Linked DNA regions of Homo sapiens. The protein of the gene in region 4 purifies or fractionates together with the protein of the main gene of each other region. This does not show direct contact. Each region holds a gene or a part of one and is shown on either strand. Other genes may lie near its edges.

Region 1 (3,500 bases), on a different chromosome or scaffold from region 4:
CTCACAATGGGAAAGAATATCTGAAATGGGGGCCATGTTCAAGAAAATTCCTATGATTTATGTTTTGCCCATGAGCATCTAGACAGCCCCTCCATAAAACAAAAATGTGGACCTCAGAGTCCTGTGAAAGCTATGTTTATTTCTTAAATCATAGTTGAAATATTCCTATTGTCAATAAATGTGGCAGTTTATTCCCTGTGGTTCTACTGGTTGGCCCTTCCCTGTCTTCACTAGTCAATCTCCTCACCAGACCACCCCATAACCAAAACCCTCTAACTCTCTACCCTTTAAGAACTGGGGAACATCCAAGGAAAAACCACCAGCCATAGCCACTCTGCTGCAGACTCAAGACACAGAGGCCCCTTTGTCCTTCAGTGACTTACACTGAGCAGAGCCTGTTGTCTTCCTTGTGAGCTCGCTGGCAGAGGAAACAGGAACCTGGGTGCAGTTCTGCCCTTGGGCCCCCCAGACTGCAGCTCTGTTGCTTGAGGAAAGGGCAGCAGGTGACTGAGGCAGAGTGCTGACTTGTGCAGGGGCAGTGGATTCCCCAGGTGTGGTGGGGACCAGGTTCCTCAGACTCTGACTTCCAGTACGTAACATATCTTTTTCTGCCTTGACTGCCATTGTTAAGCCAAAACCAGTGGCACCAGTTTTTTCTACATCAGTAGTTTTATCCACTACTTGACTAGAGCCATTTGGTATATCATGAACAAATGTACTAGCCCAAAGTGTCTTCCCTTTGTATTTACCGTTAACAAGTGCTACTCTTGGGTCAGCATCATCTGCGATTCTGCCAGTGGCCTGGACATCTCGGGAAGCAGGTCCAGCATCCTGAATCCTAGGTGATGATATTTCTCTGTGACCGCTGCTAGTGCTTTTGTAATTTAAGGATCTGGTAGAAGTTATATCTGTGGCCACTCCATCAGCATTATTATTAAAAAGAGGGCCAGGCTGGATGTCCTGAGTTCCACTTTTGCCATTGATGATCCTGTAGTCTGAGGAAAGCAAGCCTGTGCCCTTTCTGGTGGTCACAGCTTCAGGTGTTTGCAGAGAGCCAAGAGAAGAGCGGGCGGCAGGTAGCGTGGGAGAAAACACAGTCTTTCTCCTGGCGCCTTGGTCATTCGTCCAGGATGTGAGGCTCTTCCAGTTGGGGGCTGATGTTGAATTGGAAGCAAGGTAAGTGCTGCCTGGATTTCCATGCAAGAGGTCCTCTTGACTGCCGTTCTCTAAAAACCTCTGGCTTGTCCCGGCCTGACTTGTTCCTCCAAGATCAGTAGCCTTGGACGAGCCTGAGGGAGGCCGAGCGCGATCCTGACTCCCCAGATACGTGAACTTGCGGGTGAGATCGTCCACAGGCGCGTCCTCCAGGGAAGCCCTGTGGCTGATCTGATCTGGACTAGGTGTGCAGGACCTCTCAGCAGACGCTGAAGCAGACGCAAGAAATTCTTGGCTGCCCTGAAAGAACCGATCTCTACTCTTGCTTCTAGCCCTATATGCCATGTTTCTACGATGTGAAGAAGGAGCTAAGGGGAAAAAAAGCCAAAATGAAACAAAATAATGAACATTGGAGTTAATGTGACTGAGTTCCTACCACCCTTCCTCCTCTTCACTTTTGTAGCTTTGCTATCCAAGTGCTATCAAATTACTTGGCGTAATCTGATGTGTAAAAATCTTGAAGATGGGTGGTTTGACACTGACGGTTTTTTTTGTTTTTGTTTTTGTTTTAAGAGATGGAGTGTTGCTCTGTTGCCCAGGCTGGAATGCAGTGGCCCGACCACAGCTCACTGCAAGCTCGAACTCCTGGGCTCCAGCGATCCTCCCACCTGAGCCTCCTGAGTAGCTGAGACTACAGGTGCTCACCAACTGTGTCAGCTGATGAAAGAATCTTGACATTCTGCCTGCACGGCAGAGCACGTCATTCCATGGCCTAGGATGACAGTGAGGATCAGCTCTAGGATGACAGTCCCCGGCTCTCTTCTGGGACTCAAAGTAGCCCCCAAACCCCAAAACTTTTAGGTGGGGCTGTCCACTATCTCCTGGTCCTGAGTCAACGTTCATCACTGGGGTCAATGGAGAGATAGATTAGGGCAAATCAGAGAAGATTTTCCAGAAAGCATTCGATTTTGCCCATATCGTGATACGGGTGTACCTGGCTATTGACAGATTCACAATGCTCAAAGAAACCAACAGAAAATGAAACCACAGTCTAAAGGCCTGACTTTGTTTAAGCTGGAAATTTTTCCAGTTTTCTTCATCTCACTCCATAAGGCCAAAGTATATCAGAAGTCAACATCGACAAAGCAGTGTGGCCTGCAGGGAATTGGCCTTCCTCTAGAAACTTGATAGGTCACACCCTTCTGGAAGCAGGGAGGAAGGAAGGAGTTAGGGTGTGTTTGTGAGCGCGTGTGGAGTGTGTGTGGCGTGCATGCACGTGATGTTTATGTGGGGTGTGTTTGTGTGCCGGGGGTACATGTGGAAGATGTGCATGTCTGTGTTTGAGGCACATGTGCACGTGTGGTGTGTGAATGTGAGGTGTGCATGTGTGCTCGTGTGTGTGTGTGAATTGTGCTTTTTTGTGTGGGGAAGGGGTAGAAGAGACATTTTTTTTCTCTTCCAAACCCAGGGGGCAGTAGTTATGTAGTAAAAGCAAACACCCTCCTCCTGTCAAGAAAAGGCTTAACTCAGGAGATTAACTGGAAGTGAAAATATATACAGATCTTTCTCATTCACAATAAGTTTACATTGAGAAGCTACCACCAAAACCCATCCCTCCAGACATTCCTCTGTTCAGAGGGAACTGTAGTGAGAGAGAAAAAGCATTAGATATGGGATCAGAACATGCACTCTGCTACTTTCTAGTGATGTGAGGCCTTGAAAATGTTACCTTTTATTTCTTCATTACATTATCCTTCATTCTTCTAAAAATGAGCTGAGGCTGCTTGCAATAAACATTGCTTACTATTTCTGAGCCTCAGTTTCTTTACCCTCTTAAGTAAGGCTAAAAAATGACATATCTACCTTTCTTTGTGGTTTCACTGTGAGGAACAATGATGAAATATTTATTTGGGATGAAAGTCCCTTGTAAATGATAAACCATTTCCCAAATATAAGGAGGTTTAATTGTTCATTAATTTGCACAGAATCCTAGAATCATGTATTCTATCTGCTTCATAAAATTCATCTTTCCTACATCCACTTCATAAAGACATTAAAAATGAATGCCATTATATAATATGAAAATGCTTCAGAAATAGCAGCACTTGGCTGGGCATGGTGGCTTACGCCTGTAATCCCAGCACTTTGGGAGGCTAAGGTGGGTGGATCACTTGAGGTCAGGAGTTCAAGACCAGCCTGGCCAACATGATGAAAACCCGTCTCTACTAAAAATACAAAAATTAGCTGGGAGTGGTGGCAGGCACCTGTAATCCCAGCTACTTGGGAGACTGAAGCAGAAGAATCACTTGAACCCAGGAGGCGGCCGGCCATTGCAGTGAGCCGAG
Region 2 (3,500 bases), about 87 Mb from region 4:
TGTATCCCCATCTCAGCACTTATACTCTGTGTTATTAACATTTCATTTTACACCCTCCCCTAGACTGTCAGCAATCTAAGTTCAGTGATGTATACCTTACCTTTCTCTCCTGAGCACTTAACACATGTACATTCTGATCCCATTTTTATATAAACATTAATTCATCCAAACATTTAAGTACCTACTAAGTGCTAGGACCATAATGCTGACTAGGACATACACAATCCCCAATCTCTTGGATCTTTTTCTCCCCGCTTTTTGAGGAGTATGGAGTCTCCATATGTTGCCCAGGCAGGGCTCAAGCTATACTCCTGCCTCTACCTCCCTAAGTTCTGGGATTACAGGTGTGACCCATGGTGCCTGGCATCTCTTGGGTCTTATGATCTAATTGTACAAGAAAAAGAAAGTACCAGATAGTGATAAGTGGGATGCATTAAGTTTGGGGGAAGCTCTTTTGGGGAGGTAACATTAAGAGTGATTCCTAAAGAATAAGACAAGCCAGGCATGTAAAGGTCTAGGAGAAAATATTCCCAGAAAGAAGAAAAGGACCTAAAGAGATGAAGAAGTCTGTCTGATCTATAGATGCTTTACACACACACACACACACACACACACACACACACACACACACACACAGAAAAATATCTGGAGAAATATATACCAAGCTATTAATGGTAGTTATCTATTGGTGGTAGAATTCTAAATGTCTAGCTTTTCTGCTTATCTGTATTTTCTAATTTTCTAAAATAAACATATTACTTTTATAATTTAAAAACTTATTTTTAAGTTTTAAAGGATTATCATGGATTGACAAGCCCAAGATGGAATGGCATCTTTTGTTTACTAATTGGAAAATATACCTAGCAGGAAACTTTCAGGATTAAATACCAGGTAGAGTCCTGACGAACCTTCAAGTTTGGTCTAGTATTTACTGCATAGAATTTACCCACCAAACAATCGTTTTTTCTAACATAATTGAAGTAATTTGGAGTTAAGACAAATATTCCAATTAATCCTATTTTTACATCTAGAAAAACAAGTTCAACAAATTTTAGAGTTAAGAATTTACTTGGTACAATATGTAAATATATGACAGTTCCAATACTCCATATAAAATCACTTCAAGTCAATTAGCTACTACAAGGGTTACGAAACCTTCTAAAGAAAATACTTAAAAAAGCAAGTCAAAGACTTTACTAATGCCAAATAATATTTCCTTCTAAGAACAATAAAATGAAAACCGTTTATTTGCAAATATCACTTGTAATTAAACTGTAATAAGATAGCAAAATTTACATTTAATCAGAATACTGTTAACCTGGCAAGAGAAAAAGTCATCTTTTATTCTATATACAACTAAATATTTGAGATATTTGAGAATTAAACACTTAGTAATAGTCATTTATTTGGTAAGAAGTATACTTCTTACCAAATAAAATTCATCTAAATACTTTCCCCAATATCAAATCAGTAATTTAGGCAATTCTCCCAAGCAACTAAATGTTAATGCCATTCAATATAAAGGTTAGACCAATTTAAAAATAGTCATCTAATTACTCTCTTCTATTAATGTTTTAGCAATTTCACAGGAAAACAAGAAAAGAAAATATCTCCAAATAGATCTTGTTATTTTAAGCTTCGGAAGAGGTATTTGGTATGCAGAAAATGAATTGTGACCTAGATCTGCCACTGAAATTAGCACCAAGAAAGAACTGCGTTGATTGTAACACATTTTCTGTATTACTATCAACTTTCCAGTGGTATTTCTAACTTGGTCAAGTCTCTGTGGGTTTCACTTATACGAGTTTCACAAAATTCACTTATATGAAAACCATTCAATTAGTCCAACATGGCCCATCTCAAAAAAAAACAACAAAAAAAACAAAAAAAGAGAAAACCACTGTATAAAGAAAAGAATCTTACATTGTAATCTCATAAATCAACATGATAAAAATTTTAAATATGAAGTAAATTTCAATCTATCTTCTCACTAATCCTGTTTTTCAATTTTTTTTTTTTTTGAGACAGAGTCTCTCTCTGTTGCCCAGGATGGAGTGCAGTGGCGTGATCTCTGCTCACTCCAGCCTCCACCTCCCAGGTTCCAGAGAGTCTCCTGCCTCTCGGCCTTCTGAGTAGCTGGGATCACAGGCATGTACCACCACACCCGGCTAATTTTTTGTATTTTTAGTAGAGACAGGGTTTCACCATGTTGGCCAGGCTGGTCTCAAACTCCTGACCTCAAGTGATCCACCCACCTCAGCCTCCCAAAGTGCTGGGATTACAAGCGTGAGCCACGACGCCCGGCCTCAGCTTTTGACTTTTATCTAACTTAGGGTAAGATACAGAAAGCTTGACTTTTTTTACAGAGAAATTTAAGACTACCCATTTCATACTGGCTAACAAATCTCCATGAGTAAACAAAATTTATTATTGAATTACCGTGGTGGCAACTAATTGAGAATGGCATATGTATAAACAAGTTATCAAAGGTTATTATCAAACACTGGCCACTGTTGCTTTATGAGAAAAATAACAATTGCCCTGCCTTGAATTTAAAACGTTATTTGAAAGTCAGTGTCCAAAGTCTTCTTCACAACTTTTCTATTTCTGGTTTTAGCTTTCCAACAGAGAATCTATTCAGCACATTTTTAGTATTTCCCCATAGTGCAAAAGCTAAAATTTATTGACTACAGTTCTTTACAGAAAAAGAGCCAACCTACACTATACCTGTGATTAAGAAAAACTTTCACCTATCCAACTGTGTGATTACATATAAAGAGAAATACATAATTCTACAGAGGAAGATACATTCACTTAAGAAACAAATTGCTGGCTGTCTTTAAAAAGGTAACTATTAATACATGACGTTATTAATAAGATCCTCATATGTGCTAATACTACCAATATTATCAATTAATGTCATCTGATTTCACACAATTGAAAGTTTTCATTAATGCAAAAAAACAGCTTTCTATATTATTAAGTTCTTTTTTTTTTTTTGATAGGGTTTTACTCTCATCCAGGCTGGAGGGCAGTGGCGCAATCTCGGCTCACTGCAACCTCTGCCTCCCAAGTTCAAGTGATTCTCCCACCTCAGCCTCCCAAGTAGCTGGGACTGCAGGTGCACATCACCATGCCCAGCTAATTCTTGTATTTTTTGGTAGAGACAGGGTTTCACTATGTTGGCCAGGCTGGTCTCAAACTCCTGACCTCAAGTGATCTATCCGCCTCGGCCTCCCAAAGTGCTGGGATTACAGGCATAAGCCACCATGCCCGGCCTACAAAACTTAAGGTCTTAACAGCAATTCTTATACTCTAATTATGGCTTAGAAGTCGGAAAAAAAAAAAAAAGGTAGTATCTTCAGTTCGTAAAAATCACAGTAGATGAACAAAAGCAAAACAAGTGTAATTGCTTACATCTTATTATTCATGATTTTTTAAAGGACTAAAGTTGTTTCCTGAAAATAAATTATTTTCAGTCTTCTTGAGAGTTCTTCCAG
Region 3 (3,500 bases), on a different chromosome or scaffold from region 4:
TTCTGAACACTGTGTTGCATAATATCACCAAGACAAAAAATATGTTCACAGGTACACTTTTTGTTATTTTCTTTCTAGAGCACATCTTTGAGGTCATAAGACCGCATCTGGTTAAAATAAAGTCTCTTGCCCTTGCTTCCCTTCCCCCTCAAAGTGATTCAACCCTGAATTCCAAAAAGGAATATTCAATATAACAACTTGAAAACCAGTTGTAACACTTAGACCATAAGGAAACTATATGAACATTATGGAAAACTACATGAAAGAGGGAGCTGCCACTTGCCACCCACTTCACTTCCAGCTTTTTAAGCATGTACCCAGCTAGACTCCTATCTCACTGACTTCAGTGAAACAAACTAACACACCAAATCTAGGCCATCTCAGGCTGGAAGTTAAAACTCGAAGACATCATTTCATATACACATACATATATATTCCCTATCCTAAGCTTTAACTTTGTCTATTTAAACAGTTTAATAAAGCTCACATTTACAAAGGATTTTATTGGCAAATAAAGGCCCATATTAAAAATTTTATCAGAACAAATTTTTGTTTTATACAGCTAACATTAAGAAATATTTTCTTGGCCTTATAAAATATTTTTAATTGCATATAATTTTTGCTTTGGGTGGAATATTGAAAACACAATTCTGCAAGAAATTAGAAAAGACTAGAAACAAAAGTGAAAGTGACTAGCCTTAACTTTCAAAAAATCAAGTGCAAAGATAAATAGTGCAAATAATGAAAACTAGAAATTTTACAGGCAACTTTAGTCTTTCCTGCTTTTGCACTTTTACACATTGACAACTTTATAAACCCTAACAACTATATGCAGCATGGAAATGGGCTATCATTTATCTCCACTGACTAGACTTAAGCCTTTCAAGGACTTGTCTCACAGTCATTTAAATCACAAGTTCTTGACACAGGTTTGGGAATTCACTTCTTTTTAAACAAATTTCTAAGGGAGGGGCTATTTAAGAAGGCTTTGCATTGACTTAAATGAGTTATAGTATATAACTATTATAATTTAAAATCTGACACAATAAAATGTGAAAATTATACTAAAGTGCCAACTCTACAAAATAAGCTATAGTAAAAATAATCCTGCTATTGTTAATGAACCTGACATTCGTAAAAAAGAAAAATTACCTTCAAAGTACAAAATCAGAACCACTTTTTTGCTATTTTTAAAAGAGATTTTTATCACTAATATATAGAGATGTGAGTAAAATGAAACTTCAAAGTAATCTGTCCAAATCACCAGGAATAAATCCATACTAAATTTGACAACAAAGAGTTAATCCAAACATACTTGAATTATGTAACTTAAAAACAAACATTACAGTAATTATTTATCTTAAATAATTTAAAACACTACTGGAATAATGGGAACAGAAATCTAAACACTATCAGCTTACCCTACAAAGGATATAAGAACCTCCAAAATGTACTAACTTATTTTATTAACATTTGCCACCACTGAACTCTTGGGAATACTACAATTTTAAAGTAAGAGAGAAAGTAGGGAAACAGAAACATGAGTTTGGGGGGTATGTTGTCTAATTTTAGAAATACAGTATTATTGAGGGCCTCATAAGGTCTACAAGGTTAAATGGTTGCTACGGATGCAAATGTAAAAGAAATAAAAAAGACACCTAAAATTGCAAGTTAGTGTTTTTACCTGGTTTATTGTCTTCTAAGAAATTTGTGTGGGCCAAAGTCTCAAAATTCTATAAAAGCAAGGAATAATATGTGTCTTTGTGGAGTACAAAATCAAATAATTTGATCTAAGGACCATTTGAAAAGTAAAGGTAAACTACATTGTAACAAGAGCCCAAGAAAATAGATAGTATGTGTGATAAATATTTCTGATAGTTTAAAAAGAATAATGGTGAAAAGCTTGAAATTTTCTTTTCCTCAAAATAATAACTCCCCAGCATCCACTTGCCTTGACCAGAAAAGCTGTCATTCCACAATTGTGCTAATTTGTCCCAGAAAAGCAGACATCCTATACATGAAAACAGACTTGTATAATGCATGATCATTATCATAACTCTAGCTATAGTAACTAACAGCTTTCTCATAATCAATGAGGGACCCATTTTCTCTGGCTTTATTGAAACTTCCTTAGTGAAGATCAACTTCATTTCCTTAGCAAATAACTCTCATTCGGACTCCATCATAGTACCTTTTCCTACCTCTAGTAAAAATTCCTCTCACTTTATTTCCAAACCATTCTCTATATACCTCTCAAACCCCCATCCACAAACACATTAAACAGCTCTCCTCGTCCTACTCTCCAATTTCCAAACCAGTAAGTCTCAGTTCCCAGTAACTTACCTAAAATACACATACTTCTTACTCTCTTCAGTTCACAAGTTTCTTAACATTAATTTAGATACCTTCAAACTGCCAGCTTAAGACTATGGGGAAAATAGCAATCAGAAAAAAACTGCCCAGTTACCTCATAATACTGAAATTGTTCTGGATCATCAGTTAGCTATGTTCTAAGGCAGGAGTCAGAAATTTCTTTACTTCTCTCTGAAGAAGTAAGCTTGAGTGCCACTGGTAGGCCTACAGCAAGAGTAAAAGTGGAGAGAGAAACAAAGAAAAAGGATAGGAGAGAGAAGATGCCAGATGTACATGGTAAGGAGGTAGGTCAAGTACCACCACCAACTACCTGCATTTAAAATTGCCAATCCACTCCAGCTGAATGGGAGTTTGACCCAAACTCAACATGTGTCTGATAAGTCATTAGCTGATGGCTATCATTGTTTGAGCTAGTCAAGATGAATAGGTAATTCACCTGTCCCATAACTTTAACTGCCACTTCACGATAAGGACATATTTTCTTAAATCCTCCTAGGATCCTTCTGTGTTAATAATCTACCTTAGACCAAAACACACACTAACAAGAGTATTTCCATGTTTTTCACAATTCTAAAATAGAAGGACTTGGTCCTTGAACTTGGAGGCCTCTTGAATTATTAAAGTGGAACCAAAATCAAGAAAATTAAACTCTTTAGCTTAAACATTTTTCCATCTAATGCTACAAAATAAGCTAATTGCTAATAATTATCAAAACAATGTGTGTATTTATGAAAACATGAAAATCCTGTGATTCCAAAATGAGTGAAATACTTCTGATGTGTAAGAAGCAACTATATTTTACATAGAGGATCACCACCATGTTTCTGCCTATCAACAGGACAATCTTCCACAAAAGCAAAGGACATCAGGAAGGAAAAACACAAAACAAAACAAATACCAAACGTGGGGACAAAATAAAAATGAATGAGTAGTTATGACATTCTTGTTAAGAAAAATGTTAACAAGTGACCTTTGCCACACTCAGCTTTCCTAAAGACATAAATTGCCTGGACCATTCAACATCAAAACTTGGTAGTTAGCTTAGCAGATTCATTGGCTTGAAACCAATCATTATTTCTTATTTCATCTGGTTGTTCTTTTATCATGAAATTCTACCTGACTCATGC
Region 4 (3,500 bases):
TGAGCCATCATGCCACTGTACTCTAGCCTGGTTGACAGAGCAAGACTCCATCTCAAAGAAATAAATAAATAAAATAAAAATAAAATGTCACGCTATGAAGCACTGAAATATTCATTTTTCACATAATGCCTCACTTAGTATTTATACCATCATCAAAAGACCAAATAAGTAGAATACTGGAAAAAATACAAAATCAAGTGGTATTTTTATAATCAAAGCAATATGATATGCCTTATTTAAAAAAGAAAAAAAAAAAGGCCGGGTGCGCTGCCTCACGCCTGTAATCCCAGCACTTTGGGAGGCAAAGGCAGGGGATCACGAGGTCAGGAGATCGAGACCATCCTGGCTAACACGGTGAAACCCCGTCTCTACTAAAAATACAAAAAATTAGCCAGGCGTGGTGGCGGGTGCCTGTAGTCCCAGCTACTCCGGAGGCTGAGGCAGGAGAATGGCATGAACCTGGGAGGCAGAGCTTGCAGTGAGCTGAGATCGCGCCACTGTACTCCAGCCTGGGTGACAGAGCAAGACTCCGTCGCAAAACAAACAAACCAACAAACAAAAAAACAAACTCAAGATGCTCAATGATTTAAGAAATAATACTAATGGGCCGTGCGCAATGGCTCATGCCTGTAATCCCAGCACTTTGGGAAGCCGAGGCGGGCATATCACCTGAGGTCAGGAGTTTGAGACCAGCCTGACCAACATGGAGAAACCCTGTCTCTACTACTAAAAATACAAAATTAGCCAGGCGTGGTGGTGGGCATCTATAATCCCAGCTACTTGGGAGGCTGAGGTAGGAGAATCACTTGAACCCGGGAGGCGGAGGTTGCGGTGAGCCAAGATTGCGCCATTCTACTCTAGCCTGGGCAACAACAACAACAAAAAAAAAAAAAAAAAAAAAAAGAAAAAGAAAAAAAAGGAAATCATAATAATGGCTGCAAAACATGTTAAAAAACCAAACAAACAGAATAGGCCAGGCACAGTGGCTCATGCCTGTCTGTAATCCCAGCACTTTGGGGAGGCTGAGGTGGGCAGATCACATGAATCCAGGAGTTCAACACCAGCCTGGCCTACGTGACGAAATGCCATTTCTACAAAAAACACAAAAATTAGCTGGGTATGGTGCGCAGACCTGTAATCTCAGCTACTCGAGAGGCTGAGGCAATTGTTTGAACCCGGGAGGCAGAGGTTGCAGAGATGGCACCACTGTACTCCAGCCTGGGTGATGGAGCGAGACTCTGTCTGGCTCACCCCTGTAATCCCAGCAGAGGTGGGAGCATCACTTGAGCCCATGAGGCGGAGGTTGTAGTGAGCCAAGATTATGCCACTGCATTCCAGCCTGGGCGACAGAGTAAGACCCTCTCTCAGAAACAAACAAAAACACCAAAACCCTCAGAATACATTTAACAAGGTAAAAAGCCTATATGAAGAAAAAACTCAAATATATTAAAGGAAAAAATGCAAAAACATACCACGATCTTGGATTGGAAGATTGAGTGATTCTAAAGGCTATGGGAAAATATAAATTGCCAAGAATACCAGATATTACAATTTAAATTGGATATAATCAGCAGTGTAGCAACTACAAAGGGAAAAACAGCAAGTTTACAGTGGAGAAAACTGGCAGATAATACCCTAGTCAAGTTCTTTGAGTTTAGCTTTGCCTACAATGGGACACACATATCTTCTAATATGATGCACTAAGGACTTATGACTTTAAAAATGCACATCCTGAATCTAACCTTGAGGGAACATCAGACAAACCCAAACTGAGGGACATTCCTATAAAACAGGACTTCAAAAATGTCAAGGTCATAAAAAGACAAAGCCTGAAGAACTGAACAGTTCAATGAAATCCAAGATTCCAGATTGGATCTTGAAACAGGAAAAAAAAAAAAAAAATAGGACAATTGACAAAATTTGCATATGGTATATAGATAAATGTACCAGTGTTTAATTTCCTGATTATGATTAGTGTACTGAAACGATGTAAGATTGATATTCCCAGCCAGGCACAGTGGCTGATGCCTATAATCCCCAGCACTTTGGGAGGCCAAGATGGGCGGATTGCTTGAGCCCAGGAATTCGAGACCAGCTTGGGCAATATGGCAAAAACCCATCTCTACAAAATAATACAAAAATGAGCCAGGCACAGTGGTACACACCTGTAGTCCCAACTACTGGGGAGGCTGAGGTGGGAGGATCCCTTGAGCCCAGGAGGCAGAGGTTGCAGTGAGCAGAGATCACACAACTGTGCTCCAGGCTGGGTGACAGAGTGAGACCCTGTCTCAGAAAAAAAAAAAAAAGATAAATATTCCCATTCTTGGGAAATACGCACTGAAATATTTAGAGATAAAAGTGCTTACTGTCTCCAACTTATGGTTTCAAAAAAAAAACTATCTGTAGCAAGATAGAGAATGATAAAGCAAATGGGGCAAAATGTTAAGAGTCAATGAATCTGGGTAGAGGTTATGTGGGAGTGTTGGGTATTGTTCTTGCAGCCTTTTTAAAGTTTGAAATTATATCAAAATAATGTTACCGAAAGACAGTATAACCCAAGCAGATGGATCAGAGGATTAAAATGGAAAATCACAGAGATCTGAGAATATATGGAGAAATCAATAGGTAAGAAAAATAATTCAATAAATGCTGCTATAAAAATTAATAATCCATTGGGAAAGGAAGTCATATTCCTACAGACTTTGTATGATACATATGCAAAATACATTTCAGAGGATTTAAACACCTCATTGTTAAGAAAAATACTGAAAAGTTAAGACAGATAATCAGACTGGTAAAACTACAAAAATATACCATAAATCACTAAGAAAAAAGAATTACACAACATAATATAAGTAGATTATCAGTAGGAAGTCTTAGCACGACACATATACTCAGTATCTCATTGTTGCTTTAAAAAAATTGGAAATAACCTACTGGTGTATTTGAAGGGGAATGGTTGAATAAATATGGTACATCTATAATAATGAATACCACGCAGCCATTAAGAACAACGTAAAGTCTTTGGTTTGTTCACAGCCACATTTTGGTACCTGAAATAATGCCTAGCACATTTTTGAATGAATTAATGAAACAGGAGGCAGATTTTTAATCATTCAGCTGAGAAAGATCACCAAATAATATTGTTAAAAGAAAAAACAAAAAGCAAGATTTAGAACAATATGTATGGAATAATCCTATTAGAACACTGCACGTTTGTACCAAAATTTAAGGACACTGATATTTATAAAGCAGTTAGCAAACAGCCAGCAGCCATCAAGAAAAAAAAAAAAAGTAGTTGTTGATACAGCTAGTTCTGTAGCAAAGCCAGGGTCAGATGAACCCAGAGTTCCTGATTTAAAGCTCAGAGCTCATTCTATCATGCCACTTACTGCACCACCAACTTGACATTAGCGGAGGTGACAGCATCTCAGACCCTACCCAGAATAGACTTCATTACAGCTTCATCTATTATAGTAAAACAACAGTGTCAAATATGT

What was found.
Region 1: the proteins of LIN28A (region 4) and ZC3HAV1 purify together in Homo sapiens (affinity purification with mass spectrometry; 3 studies listed by BioGRID and IntAct, with this or other methods). This does not show direct contact.
Region 2: the proteins of LIN28A (region 4) and RSBN1 purify together in Homo sapiens (co-immunoprecipitation; 3 studies listed by BioGRID and IntAct, with this or other methods). This does not show direct contact.
Region 3: the proteins of LIN28A (region 4) and PURA purify together in Homo sapiens (affinity purification with mass spectrometry; 3 studies listed by BioGRID and IntAct, with this or other methods). This does not show direct contact.

Annotation. Positions count from the first base shown.
Region 1 is NC_000007.14:139,078,721-139,082,220, forward strand, and holds part of ZC3HAV1 (zinc finger CCCH-type antiviral protein 1), read right to left. Parts: intron 1,524-3,500; coding exon 750-1,523; coding exon of another isoform or gene 384-749; intron 1-383.
Region 2 is NC_000001.11:113,798,977-113,802,476, forward strand, and holds part of RSBN1 (lysine-specific demethylase 9), read right to left. Parts: intron 1-3,500. UniProt on the Homo sapiens protein: Histone demethylase that specifically demethylates dimethylated 'Lys-20' of histone H4 (H4K20me2), thereby modulating chromosome architecture.
Region 3 is NC_000005.10:140,120,651-140,124,150, reverse strand, and holds part of PURA (transcriptional activator protein Pur-alpha), read right to left. Parts: 3' UTR 1-3,500. UniProt on the Homo sapiens protein: This is a probable transcription activator that specifically binds the purine-rich single strand of the PUR element located upstream of the MYC gene. May play a role in the initiation of DNA replication and in recombination.
Region 4 is NC_000001.11:26,420,817-26,424,316, reverse strand, and holds part of LIN28A (protein lin-28 homolog A), read right to left. Parts: intron 1-3,500. UniProt on the Homo sapiens protein: RNA-binding protein that inhibits processing of pre-let-7 miRNAs and regulates translation of mRNAs that control developmental timing, pluripotency and metabolism.